2 linked regions of the Homo sapiens genome follow. The protein of the gene in region 1 purifies or fractionates together with the protein of each later gene. This does not show direct contact. Each region holds a gene or a part of one and is shown in the gene's direction. Other genes may lie near its edges. The genes, in order: PRKCH and AKAP13.

The links.
Region 2: the proteins of PRKCH (region 1) and AKAP13 purify together in Homo sapiens (affinity purification with western blotting; one study listed by BioGRID). This does not show direct contact.

Annotation. Positions count from the first base shown.
Region 1 is NC_000014.9:61,527,418-61,531,241, forward strand, and holds part of PRKCH (protein kinase C eta type), read left to right. Parts: intron 1-1,389; coding exon of another isoform or gene 1,390-1,426; exon of another isoform or gene 1,427-1,441; intron 1,442-1,657; coding exon 1,658-1,796; intron 1,797-2,989; coding exon 2,990-3,178; intron 3,179-3,824. UniProt on the Homo sapiens protein: Calcium-independent, phospholipid- and diacylglycerol (DAG)-dependent serine/threonine-protein kinase that is involved in the regulation of cell differentiation in keratinocytes and pre-B cell receptor, mediates regulation of epithelial tight junction integrity and foam cell formation, and is required for glioblastoma proliferation and apoptosis prevention in MCF-7 cells.
Region 2 is NC_000015.10:85,575,779-85,579,602, forward strand, and holds part of AKAP13 (A-kinase anchor protein 13), read left to right. Parts: intron 1-3,151; coding exon 3,152-3,824. UniProt on the Homo sapiens protein: Scaffold protein that plays an important role in assembling signaling complexes downstream of several types of G protein-coupled receptors.

The DNA of each region.
Region 1 (3,824 bases):
CGTCTATCTCTAAGTGATTATCAAGCCTTATTACTGATTTTGCTTTCACCGAAGCCCTGCTTCCTTTCCCCTGACTAACTCCTTATTTTCCATTCCATTCATCACTGTCCTGGTTCAGGTCTTAACATCTCTTCCCTGGACGGTTTCAGCCTCCCCCAACTGATCTTTTCTTGTCCAGCCAGGAATCTGTTACTCCCTTAATGAGGGAGCATCAATGAGTTCCTTTTGCCTAATATGTAAAAATCAAAATTCCTTCGTGTGACATTCAGGACCCTTCATGGTTTGAAGGACTTAACTTTCCTCTGTAGCCCTGAGATTTTTCATGGCCCCAGCACTCCTCTGTCCTGTGCTGCCCGCCCCTCAGCCTCCTCCACCATACCCAGGGTTCTCTGAGTCCACCTGCACAGCCATACTGCTGGGCTTGCTGCCGTGTCCCTGCCCCATCCGCCTGTCCATGGCGGCCTTCTCACTCCCCTTCTCTGCCTGGGAGACTCTGACTCATGCTATCAGACCCAGCTCAATTTCTGCTTCTGCTGTGAGGCTGTCTCTCTCTCCTCCCACTAGAAGGAATTGTTCTCTCTTATGTTTCTCTCGTAGCACTTGGTTCATACCTTCATCGTGCCACTAGGATGATACAGCAATTGGTGTGTTCCCCCTCCCCACCCCTCCTGGTCTATCCTGTCCATGTGTGTGTGTGTGTCTGTCTGTATATGAAATATATATCTATTTGTTTTACACACACACACACACACACACACACACACAAAGTATTTCTTTCTTCTCTTTTCATTTTAGAGACAGGGTCTCACCCTGTCGCCCAGGCTGGAGTTCAGTGATGCACTCTCAGCTCACTGCAGCCTCAACCTCCTGGGCTCAAGTAATCCTCCCACCTCAGCCTCCCAAGTATGTGGGACTACAGGTGCATGCCACCATGCCCAACTAATTTTTGTATTTTTCGTAGGTTGGGATGTTGCCCATGTTGTCCAGGCTAGTTTCAAACTCCTGAACTCAAGCAATCTGCCTGCCTCAGCCTCCCAAAGTGTTGGGATTACAGGCACCCAGCCGACAAGTATTTCTTAAGTACATTATGCCAGGCATAATGGCGCCAGGCATAATGGTGAACCGCATAAACACAATCCCCGCCGTCATGGAGCTTCTAGCCTAGCAAATATTTGTCTCCCATTACACTGTGAGTTCCTTGCAGATGAAGATCAGCTGTACTCCTAGTGCCTGTCACCACCCCGGGCACACAGTGGCCACCTCCCCTATGGGTGTTCATTCTGACTCCGATGGGTAGAGATGGGTGCTAGAGTGGAGGATGGGGTATAGGCTGAGTATGAGGTAAGTGGAAAGCCTAGAAAAGCCACATTCTGCCCTCCGTTTTTACAGGACAGCCTACATTTTCCTGTGGTCAGCCCATTCTTAATGGGCGCATCATCTTGGAGCCATGAGGCAAGTTCTGAGACTTGATCTAAATGTGTCATCCAGATAGCACAGAGAAGTTTGTTCCTTTTGACGTGTGTACAGGAAGCTCATGCGGCCGCATGTGGCCGCACGTGTGTGTGTGTGTGTGTGTGTGTGTGTGTGTGCCCATTCTGAGAGGTGGATGGTTTGGGGTCTGGCTGCCCTATCTCGTGCTGCTCTTTGTATCTTTCAGAGATCTGAAACTGGACAATGTCCTGTTGGACCACGAGGGTCACTGTAAACTGGCAGACTTCGGAATGTGCAAGGAGGGGATTTGCAATGGTGTCACCACGGCCACATTCTGTGGCACGCCAGACTATATCGCTCCAGAGGTGAGTGCAGCTGCTTGATGCAGCTCTGAAATCTGAGCTCTCCAGTAACTCTGACCAGAAATGCCACTGGCTGCTTTTATGCACTGCAGCTTTGGAGGCAGCATTGAAAGGTGTCTAGAGCCGACACCTCTAGACTCATTTATGGCTCATTGGGTGAATGATGGCTGAAAATGGCCTAAGTCCCTCTAATAAGAATTTGAGTTAAAAAAGAAAATCATGCTGCTATAAAGACACATGCACACGTATGTTTATTGCGGCATTATTCACAATAGCAAAGACTTGGAACCAACCCAAATGTCCAACAATGATAGACTGGATTAAGAAAATGTGGCACATATACACCATGGAATACTATGCAGCCATGAAAAATGGTGAGTTCATGTCCTTTGTAGGGACATGGATGAAATTGGAAATCATCATTCTCAGTAAACTATCGCAAGAACAAAAAACCAAACACCGCATATTCTCACTCATAGGTGGGAATTGAACGATGAGATCACATGGACACAGGAAGGGGAATATCACACTCTGGGGACTGTGGTGGGGTGGGGGGAGGGGGGAGGGATAGCATTGGGAGATATACCTAATGCTAGATGACGAGTTAGTGGGTGCAGCGCACCAGCATGGCACATGTATACATATGTAACTAACCTGCACAATGTGCGCATGTACCCTAAAACTTAAAGTATAATAAAAAAAAATATATATATATATGTAAACTTTGCAGTTGCTTTGGGCTTTAGCCCTAAATGAAGACAAAGTGTACGCCATTCATGGCTATTTATTTTCCTTTTTGTCTCTACTTAGTGATTTAATTTCAGCGTCATTTAGCAGAACTAAAGAAAGGCTCTTGAATCCTTGAATCCTTCCCGTATGAGTGAGTGAACCCAGTCCCCTTTTTTTTCCAGACTGATATATTTCCAGAACCCTTTCTGTTTGGGATCTGCACGAGCCCATCACAGTGGCCCAATCAGGCCATAAATATTTGCTCACCTAGATGAGAAGGCACCTCTGAGTTGACCACAGGGAAAACAGACCACTCTGTAGAAATGGAATGAAATACGCTTGCTAGCACAGGAGACTTTTTTAAAAAAACTTTGATATTTCCTAATGCATCAATTTCCCTAGTTATGAAGAACACATTTGTTAATCTGATGTATGAACCACCTTCTCACGCTGCCCCCTTTGCACAGATCCTCCAGGAAATGCTGTACGGGCCTGCAGTAGACTGGTGGGCAATGGGCGTGTTGCTCTATGAGATGCTCTGTGGTCACGCGCCTTTTGAGGCAGAGAACGAAGATGACCTCTTTGAGGCCATACTGAATGATGAGGTGGTCTACCCTACCTGGCTCCATGAAGATGCCACAGGGATCCTAAAATCTGTAAGTTTGGCTTACCCAGCTAGCTTCTGATGTATTGCAAACCAGCTTGTTTCATGTGCTGCTTGAGTCTTTTCAGTACTTCCCACCAGTAAACCACTAGCTCTAACTAAAATTTGTATTGTTCTAATCTAAAGAATCAAAGAACCAGAGTTCTGTCAGGCTGTTACCCTCTCTTATGCAATAGACCCTCTCTTATGCAGTAGTTATTTTGGGGTCAATTTCAATAGCCCTTGATAACTTTGTTTGCCAAATAGCAAGTATTTCTAGCACTTCGTAACTTTAGTTGAGGGCAGGTGATGTTTCCCCTTCATACAGTCAGGCCACACCAGAGTTTTGGGTCAAGTAAATGCCATTCCCAGCCTGTTATTATATCAATTGTGTTTCTGTTGGCATCTTCAAGTTGCAGGATGAAGCGGTCGGGTCTTTCTCTTAGGGCTGGGAGAGGAGAAGGAAGGTTTTCCAAACCTCTGCAGATCTATTTTGCCTCCATGTTATTCTTATGAAAGCCGGGTGCCACGCCCAGGCTGCAGGTGCAATGTTGTAATGGATCATGTTGAGAAAGTCTTTTCTGTGTGTGCATTTAAGGCACTGTGCTGGATGCCTTTGAATTGAGGATAAACATGTACTGGACGCCTTTATGTTGAAA
Region 2 (3,824 bases), on another chromosome or scaffold:
GAGCTCAGGAGTTTGAGACCAGCCTGGGCAACATGGAGAAACTCTGGCTCTACAGAAGTTAGCTGGGCATGGTGGCGTACGCCTATAGTCCCAGCTACTTGGGGGTCTGAGGCAGGCAGATCATGTGAGCCTGGGAGGCAGAGGTTGCAGTGAGCTGAGATGACACCACTGCACTCCTGCCGGGGTGACAGAGCAAGACCTTGTCTCAAAAACAGAAAAAGAAGGACTTTCCCCAAAGATTCTGAGACCTGTAAAGCAGTATTAGCAGTATTAAATGTTACCACTTACAGATCAGAGCTAGCATTAAGGTTGTAGCCGTAGGGGGACTGAGAGGTTTTTTTCATTGGTTTTGGGAATAATGGAAGACACACATTTCAGGTACAGAAATATGCAACAACTAGAACTAAATTTCTGGCATAAAAGGATATTTGTCTGTGTTTGGCTTAACTTTACAAAATGAAAGAACCAACAGTTTCTGAGATTGTTGCCAAAGAACAAGAACCAAATTTAATCAGGAGTATTTTTACAACTATTTTAGTGGCGATGATATGTACCATTTAAATATAGTGTTACTATATTTAAATCAATAGTTGTATGGTACAAAGATAGCTAAAAAAAACAGAAAAGATTTTATAATCCACTCAAGTCTTCAAGATAAAGTTGTTGCCAGACATAAAAACATTACAGACTCCCTGTTAGCATTTATTACGAATAACATAAACGTCATATGTGTACATCTCTCTTGGGCATAACATCTGAAAGGCTGTGTTTAGGTAATTTTTCCACCCAGTTTATTTCAGAGCTGATTTGATTTGGAAACCACTGGACAGTAATTTCATTTAAGGTCAGCTCAATGCCAGAGGCTTCTTTGGGAGCATGCATTATTTGAGACCAGCAAGCCAAGAAATTCCATAGGGTTATGTGATGCTCCCACTTTTGTGTTTTAGAATTGTGTTTGTTCCAGAGCACGTGACATTTCATTTTCCTCTGAATGGACTTCTAGGCAATCAGGTTTTTCCTTAGAGCTCTTTTTACTAGGTGAATGGTAGTTCACTTGAAAATATAGTTTTGCAGGTACCAAAGCTACCTGCCAAGATATGGAAATGGTTGGCAGGCAAATACGAGAAATTAAAACTGTGGGAACATACATGTGCTACTTTCTTTAGGCAACACTACTTGTTTCGCCAGATTTCTGTTTTATAATGTTTACCATTTATTAAATTTAATGACTTCATTTCCTGATTTTTAGGAGACTGTCGTACTCTCAGCAGGACTGGAAATAAGCTAATTTTGAATACTCTTAAGGAGCCTAACACAGAAGCTTTTAGTGAAAGTCCATTTTGCTTGTACACTCTACTAGAAAGACTTTAACAAGCATGACACATTTTACACTTGTACATATAAACTTTTACAATAGGCTCAGTAGGTAGATAGGAATGGTCTGATGATGGAACCCTGTAAGTGCCCAATATATTCACTGAGTGAGTAGGTGAATGAGAGGATGGATGGCAGTAGGTATGCATATTATTGCAGTAGATCAGGTAATGAATGAATGGCGAGCAAACCAGATGTTTGGAAAAATAGATTTTAGGTGTTGAGAAAATATTTTTATAAGAATTTTTGAAATTTTGATATAAAGGTAAAATCACTAAAGATCACCTGTATTTGTTTTTCTCCATTTTAAACCTTGCTGCATGCACATGGGATTTTTGCATATTTATAAACTTAGATTAATAATTTTTTTCTAATTGCAATATGGTCCTCATAGTTAATAATGGCTAGTATTTCTTCCATCAGTTTTATGAACCTTGATTTTCTTAATCATTCCCATGCTGTTGGTTATATCTGTTTATATTTTTTAAATACTTTAAAGTTGCAAAATCCATTTTTGAGATTACATATAGTATCCATAATATACTCTGACAGTATATAGGTATATGTTCTCATTTATTTTATATTTAATATGTTCTGATTTTATCAAAAGGTGAAAGAATATCTGCCATGCCACTGTTCCTGAAATTATGACCCCATAACTCGATGGTTAAGTTAGATTGGTTGGAACATATTTTGGGGATTAAAGGACACTGAACTCAGTAAGTATTTAGGGCACAGGCACATTGGCTGCACCTTGTAATGGAAAAGAGCTAGGATTTGTTTTTACTTGTATATATGAGGCAGGGTGTAAGTAGACTCTGCCCTTCTGAAGACAATGAAAAATATAGGTGGGACACAGTGGTGTAGGCCCTATAATCCCAGCACTTTGGGAGACCAAGGTAGGAGGATCCCATAGGCTCAGGTGTTGGAGAACAGCCTGGGCAACATAGTGAGACCCCGTCTCTACAAAAAATAAAACAATTAGTCAGGTGCAATGGTGCACACCTGTAGTCCTAGCTACTGAAGAGGCTGAGGCGGCAGGGTCACTTGAGCCCAGGAGTTCAAGGCTGCGGTGAGCTGTGATCACACCACTGCACTTCAGCCTGGCCTCAGAATGAGAGAGCCCACCTTAATGTTAGCAGCTCAATTGAAGATATTCACTGAGCTTTTTAAAAATCAGGTTTTTGAGACTCTTTTATTTTTATTTTTTTTAAGACGGAGTTTTGCTCTTATTGCCCAGGCTGGAGTGCAGTGGTGCTGTCTCGGCTCACTGCAACCTCCGCCTCCCGGGTACAAGCAATTCTCCTGCCTCAGCCTCCCAAGTAGCTGAGATTACAGGCATGCACCACTACGCCCAGCTAATTTTGTATTTTTAGTAGAGACAGGGTTTCTCCATGTTGAGGCTGGTCTCGAACTCCTGACCTCAGGTGATCTGCCTGCCTCAGCCTCCCAAAGTGCTGGGATTACAGGCATGAGCCACCATGCCCGGCGAGACTCAGTTTTCATCTACTTCCTAAAATAAGTTCAAAATTTAGAAAATAGATATTTCATATATCCTAATCTATTTTGAACATCCCAGTATATAGGCAGATATGAAAGGAAAGTAATATCAGAAATAAGAGGAAATTTATTTGTATTCTTTTAGATTCGCTTATCATGTGACCTTAGAAGAGCTAGAATAGAAGTGAGTTCTGTCCAACAGAATTTTTGCTCAGAGGTGTCAGTGACATCTTCTCCTACAGGCAGTTTTTTAAAAGTGTATTTCATTTCCTCCTAGAAAACAAACCTCAAGCAGATGGACAGTCTTATGCCCTTAATGATGACAGCACAGGATCCTTCCAGTGCCCCAGAGACAGATGGCCAGTTTCTTCCCTGTGCACCGGAGCCCACGGACCCTCAGCGACTTTCTTCTTCTGAAGAGACTGAGAGCACTCAGTGCTGCCCAGGGAGCCCTGTTGCACAGACTGAAAGTCCCTGTGATTTGTCAAGCATAGTTGAGGAGGAGAATACAGACCGTTCCTGTAGGAAGAAAAATAAAGGCGTGGAAAGAAAAGGGGAAGAGGTGGAGCCAGCACCTATTGTGGACTCTGGAACTGTATCTGATCAAGACAGCTGCCTTCAGAGCTTGCCTGATTGTGGAGTAAAGGGCACGGAAGGCCTTTCGTCCTGTGGAAACAGAAATGAAGAAACTGGAACAAAATCTTCTGGAATGCCCACAGACCAGGAGTCCCTGAGCAGTGGAGATGCTGTGCTTCAGAGAGACTTGGTCATGGAGCCAGGCACAGCCCAGTATTCCTCTGGAGGTGAACTGGGAGGCATTTCAACAACAAATGTCAGTACCCCAGACACTGCAGGGGAAATGGAACATGGGCTCATGAACCCAGATGCCACTGTTTGGAAGAATGTGCTTCAGGGAGGGGAAAGTACAAAGGAAAGATTTGAGAACTCTA